Linked DNA regions of Homo sapiens: region 1 is linked to region 2. Evidence: fine-mapped expression QTL. A gene starts in region 2. The other region holds a variant in brackets. All regions are shown on one strand. Distances are from middle to middle.

What was found.
Region 1: its variant is fine-mapped to the expression of PCBP1 in whole blood (TOPMed, PIP 0.98).

What each region holds. Positions count from the first base shown.
Region 1 is chr2:69,969,467-69,972,367 of GRCh38, reverse strand. All of the region lies in intron 9 of PCBP1-AS1 (PCBP1 antisense RNA 1), which reads left to right. It also overlaps a transcript of ASPRV1 not described here. Among named protein-coding and RNA genes, the nearest start is that of ASPRV1, 9.3 kb to the right of the region's middle. RefSeq lists an enhancer at 1-215. The variant TG/G (reference allele first, on the strand shown) is at 1,201.
Region 2 is chr2:70,085,587-70,088,452 of GRCh38, reverse strand. It overlaps PCBP1 (poly(rC) binding protein 1), which reads right to left and starts at 976. Exons shown (of 1, transcript NM_006196.4): 1 at 1-976. The coding sequence starts at 709. PCBP1-AS1 (PCBP1 antisense RNA 1) reads left to right here and starts at 1,438. Exons shown (of 11, transcript NR_033872.1): 1 at 1,438-1,475; 2 at 2,829-2,866. It also overlaps a transcript of ASPRV1 not described here. RefSeq lists enhancers at 1-554, 1,760-1,969, 2,010-2,099, 2,240-2,379 and silencers at 890-949, 1,400-1,549.

The DNA.
Region 1 (2,901 bases), 120 kb after region 2:
AAAAAAGGGCCGGGCACGGTGGCTCACATCTGTAATCCCATAACTTTGGGAGGCTGAGGCAGGAGGATCACGAGGTCAAGAGTTGGAGACCAGCCTGACCAACATAGTGAAACTCCATGTCTACTAAAAATACAAAAAATTAGCCAGGCGTGGTGGTGGGCGCCTATAATCTCAGCGACTGGGGAGGCTGAGGCAGGAGAATCTCTTGAACCCGGGAGGCGGAGGTTGCAGTGAGCCGAGATCGCGCCACTGCACTCCAGCCTGGGTGACAGTGTGAGACTCCGTCTCAAAAAAAAAAAATGGTAAAGAAAACCTAGAAGACAGCAACCGAATCACAGCCATGAAAGCAAGAGGGTCGAGTGTAACCAGGTGCAGTACTGGCTAAGCCCCATGGTACGGATTGCTTGAATAATCTCCCAGGACAATCCTAGGAGGAAACCAAGGCTTGAAAGAATTAAGTCATTTGTCCACAGCTTGCAGCCAGTTAGTGGCTGAGTCAGGAGTTGAATTTAGGCAGCCTGGCCCTCTTGACAAGGCCAAAGACTGCGCAGAGGCACCTTTCTCCTCAGCAAAGCTCCCCCAGATGATGCAAGTTCAAATGCTCCAGGACGGAGATTGGCAGGGCTGGCTTGGCTACATGTCAAGGGCTTGTGGGCATCCTAAGGCTGGCAAAGCCGCCTCACATCTCCGGCCTCCCCAAACATTCTTGCACCTGATGCTCTTAGCACCCCGCACTGTCTGTTGAATCTAATTATAATGAATCTAGACTTGCATTTTTAAATATCTTTGTTATTTTACCTTCAGATAATTCATTCTTATTGTGTTTTTAAATAGTAAAGTATGTGACAGATTGGAAATTTACAAAACGATCCTGCGCCTTAGAACATTTGAGAGGCAGGGTCCTAACGTTCTATTCTAATCACATTGATCCCTTGCTGGGAGCCCTTAGTCATCCCTGCTGGCTATAGCAGTTTTCCAAATGGTGGGTGGGGATCAATTAGTGGGTTGGGAGATTAGTTTTCAGTGTCATTAAAAGAGTTAAAAAAGAAGTGGCCCCAAATAGAAAATATCAGAGTATATTACACATAGTAAATACATTTTGTTTTAGCTACATATATCTTCATGGATATGTGTACTGGATTATGATGAAAAATGTCTTTCTTACTATGAGTACAGTAAAAAAAAGCAACTTTTTTTTTT[TG/G]AGGCAGAGTCTTACTCTGTCACCCAAGCTGGAGTCCAGTGACATGATCTCAGCTCACTGCAACCTCCACCTCCCAGGTTCAAGCAATTCTCCTGCCTCAGCCTCCCAAGTAGCTGGGATTGCAGGTGCCCACCACCACACTTGGCAAATTTTTGTATTTTTAGTAGAGACAGGGTTTCACCATGTTGGCCAGGCTGGTCTCGAACTCCTGACCTCAGGTGATCTGCCCGCCTCGGCCTTCCAAAGTGTTGGGATTACAGGCATGAGCCACTGTGCCCGGCCAAAAAAAGGCAACTTTGAATGCTGCTCATCTGCAGTTAAAGAGCACTGCCAGGCCTGATATTCAAAGCCATCGAGGCAGAAGCAATTGCTGAGGAAGATCAGGCAATGCTTCATGGGAAAAAGGTGAGGACAGCCTGGGCTGGAGGATGTGCAGGTTGTGGATGAGACCAAAGGCCAAGAAACACCGGGACTTTCATGTTTAGACTGTACCAGTGCTGCAACTCAGAGAGGAGCTGGGCCTGGCAGTCCCTTATGATAGCACCTTAGAGGAGGGAGACCCTGAGTTTGCTAGGGAAATCAAAGGAGACTTCCTGGAGGTGGTAGTGTCTTAGTTGACTTCTCAGTGTTTGCCAGGAGAACAGGGGTGTCAGAGGGCTCATCTGGCTGAGTGGCTTGTGAAAAGGTATGAGAAAGCCCGTCCTGTTTGGGGAGCTACACGCCATTTTGTATAGGTAGAGCATGAACTAGGGAGGGGGACTTCGTGAGTCTTGTTGGGTGTCAAGATTTTATTTTGGGATGAAGAGCCATGGAGGAATTTTGAGCAGAATGGCATGAGCAGACTTACATCTTTGGAAGATGACTCTGGTGGCCTGAGGAGGGTGGATTAATGGAGAGGAGGCAGGAGGCAAGGAGTCCTGTAGGATGACTACCGACCTCAGCAGGGTGCCCTGAGGCCAGGGTGTGAAGAGGCATGGAGGCAGGAGAGAGACTCAGGAGGAGGAGCTGAGGGCACTGGCGACCCAGCAGTCCAGGTGGGGCCGTGAGAAAGGGGTGGAGGTGAGGAAGCCCCCTGTGTCTGTGACTCCGAGGGCTGGCTAGATAGTAGTGCCATTGCCAGATAAAGAACACAGAGAGCCAGGTGTGGTGGCTCATGCCTGTAATCCTGGCACTTTGGGAGGCCAAGGCGGGAGGATTGCTTGAGCCCAGGAGTTAGAGACCAGCCTGGGCAATGTAGGGAGACCCTGTCTTTACCAAAAAAAAAAAAAAATTTAAGAGAATTAGGCAGATGTGGTGGTGTGCACCTCTGATCCCCTCTAAGGTGGAACTGGAGCTGAGGTGGGAGGATTGCTTCAGCCCGGGAGGTCAAGGCTTCAGGGAGCCATGGCATTTCAGCCTAGGTGACGAAACAAACAAAAAACACAGGAGGCAGAGGGTGTCTGGTGAGAAGACAGCATGTTCACTGTTGAAAGTGGACTCGTAGGCAGACATGTAAGGTGGGCAGCTGGGGCAGTGGGGAGAGGATGGGTAAGCGGTGCAGAGAGGGGTGTCCCTGGCCTGGAGAGTGTGTGGAATGAGGGGGAATGGCCTGTAGACAGAGCCTCAGGGAGCCACATCTGTGAGTATCCAGGGAGAGAGGAACCCACAAAGGACAGAGGGGAGTGGTCGTAGTGGCAGAAGACCCAGAAACTTGGGATACA
Region 2 (2,866 bases):
TGGCCAGATCGAGCGGAGAAATGGTGTGTTGTCCTTGAATCGAGTAGGCATCTAGAGGTGGTCCCTCCAGGTCATGGGTGGCATGGGGGTAGCCCGCAGCGTCGCTGCACCGATCTTGGCCGCCCGCGCAGATGACTGGGGAGCTGGCCGGCATGGGCTGGTACGGAATGGTCATGACTCTCCCTTGCGGAGACTGGGAGAGCGTCTCCAGCATGACCAGGCAAATCTGCTTGACACACTCGGTGACAGACTGCGGCACGCCAGCGATGGTGATGGCCCGCTCGGTGGAGTTGGGCAGCATATCCCCCGCCACCTGGACCTGCGCCCCCGTACTCTCGCGGATCTCTTTGATCTTACACCCGCCTTTCCCAATCAGGGAGCCGCACTGGGTGGCCGGCACCACCAGCCTCAGGGTGACCGGGGGCCTGCTGGCCGCGGTACTGTTGGTCATGGAGCTGTTGATATCTTCCTCCAGCTTGTCGATGATCATAGCGAAAGCCTTAAAGATGGCATTGGTGGGGCCGGTCAGAGTGATGATTCTCTCCGGACAATTCCCCTCCGAGATGTTGATCCGCGCGCCACTCTCCTCGCGGATCCTCTTAACCGACTCCCCTTTCTTCCCAATGATGCTTCCTACTTCCTTTCCGTGCATAAGAAGCCGAATGGTGAGAGTCACATTTAGTCCACTTTCAGTCACACCGGCATCCATGGCGAGCGGCGGGCGGCGTTCGGGGGAGTTGGGCTCGTTACGTGGTCAAGTCTTTGGCGGCTGGCGGGGGGAGGGGAGGTGTAGGCCCAAAACTGCCGGCGCGAGGCGAGCGAGGGCCGCGGGAGCGAGCGGGAGCGGGCGGGAGGCCGCAGCGTAGTCGCAGGGGCGGGCGGCGGCGGCGGAGGGGGCGAGCGGGGCCGGGAGCGGCGGGCGGGCGGGTGGGCGAGGGCGCGGCGGTGGCGACTCCGGCGGCAGCCTCGGCGGTCTGGGCGGGGCGGGAAGCCCGCTTTCAACCCCGCGTACCCTCTGACCCCGGAAGTGCTTGCTGCGCAGGACCCCTTGAAAAAAAATGAGGACCCGTCTTTTTTAGGTCACAAGATTGCGCCAACCCTTACATGGTCCTTAAAAAAAAAACCTTCTGACACTGCAGTAGTGAAAATGAAGCGCACGATGGGCGGAAGCTGTGAGTCCGGCAAAGTTTTAAAATGATGACGTATTTTATTAACTCTAACGGCACTGGCGGGTGACTGAAAATACTAGTGCTGTGTATGCGGGATAGACATTATTTTCCTGCCCTACATGAGGGGCTCGTGCGCGGAACGACATGGGCAGCCCCGGCGGAAACTGCAGGCACAAGCCGGGACGCCGCGGGTTTAAAACATGCGCGTGAGGTGACCAGAGCGCGTGCGCGAGGGTGTGGGGGGATGGGAGGGGCAGCAGCCCTCTTCCGGGGGGGAGGGGCGGCGAGGCGAGGCCTGCGGAGCGGGTGCGCGCGGGCGGGCACGTGGGGCCCTTTCGTCCCCGGCGTCCGGGCGCCCTGCATGGATCCCCCACCCCAGCTCCTGCTCCCCGGCGGCGGCCGGTGGGCAGAAAGACCGAAACCCACTCACGGCCGCCTGCCGAATCGCGGCTCTGCTGTTTGTGGGGCGTGCTAGAAACGTGGTCCTAAAAAGAATGGCGTCCATTTACATAATGCTTTGTTTGCGTTTCGCAAGTTTCTTTCGGTTAAAGCCACAGAAACCCCACCTCCTGCCCTTGTGTCGTTTCCACCGCGGCACCCTTTTCCGACATTAGAAACAATAGTGTACGCCTGTGGAGGCCTCGTTTGTTCAGGGGCTGCCGGCCAGGGCTTCAGGACGTTTCTGCGGCTTTCCCCGCGCGGCCTGGGCTCCCGCGGCTGCTTTTCGGGCCCATGGGCGCAGCCACTGCGCCAGGCTCAAGGGGGGCGGCCCCGTCAGGGCCCGCCATCTTGGAAGGCCTTTTTTGCCGGTTCTTCCCGCTGAGGAAGTGTCGCTCAAGACGCTGGCCTATGAGTTGTGATTTCTGCCTTTTCCCCTTCCTCCTTGGGCTAAGCCAGACCAGAAAGGGCCCCGTGCGCAACGTGCTTCACAATCTCTCAGGGAAAGCGGCTAACGTGGCGCTACTCCGCCTCCCCTGTTCCTTACCCTTGGGGCGGCCGCCATGTTTCCTGAACACAAAATGGCGACACGTGGTTAGCATTCGTCGCCAACGAGAAATTGGGGTCGGCCCGAAAGCTCTAGAATGCACCCCTCTTCCTCCCCGGGGCCTTCCACCTCCGCGAGTTTTATGACTTAAAAAAGCCCACAGGCTGGTCTGAAGGTCGGAGGCCTAATTTTAACGCGTTTTCCTCCCTTTAATTTGAAACGGGAACGCGAATGACTGTAAAATGTGGGCACAATATTTAATCTCTCGCCTTTTTAAAGCTTAATAGTGGATAATAGGGGGGCAGTATCAAGGGATAATTTGGGTCCCCACAGTACCAAAGCATTTAGAAACCTCTGTTTAATTTAAGGAATGAGATAAGTTACTGCTTTTCTAGACTTCCTAGCATGGGCTGTTGTGCTGGAGAGAACGAGAGCTACGAAGAGACTACAGTGCCTCTGACTTTTTCATAGGACAGTTGGCCGGTGAATCTTATTAATAGTTTACCACAATTAAGTGTTCATTTTTAGTCTAGAAGGGACAGGCGTTTATTGTGCATTGGCCAGTGCCAGCACATCCGATGCAAGGCAGTTCACCGTATTCTATCTTTAATTTTTACCATGGTCCTCTGAGGTAGGTGTTCTTATCTCTCTCTCTCTCTCTCTCTTTTAAACAGAGGAAGACAAACATAAAGATGAAGTGCTTAATTCAAGG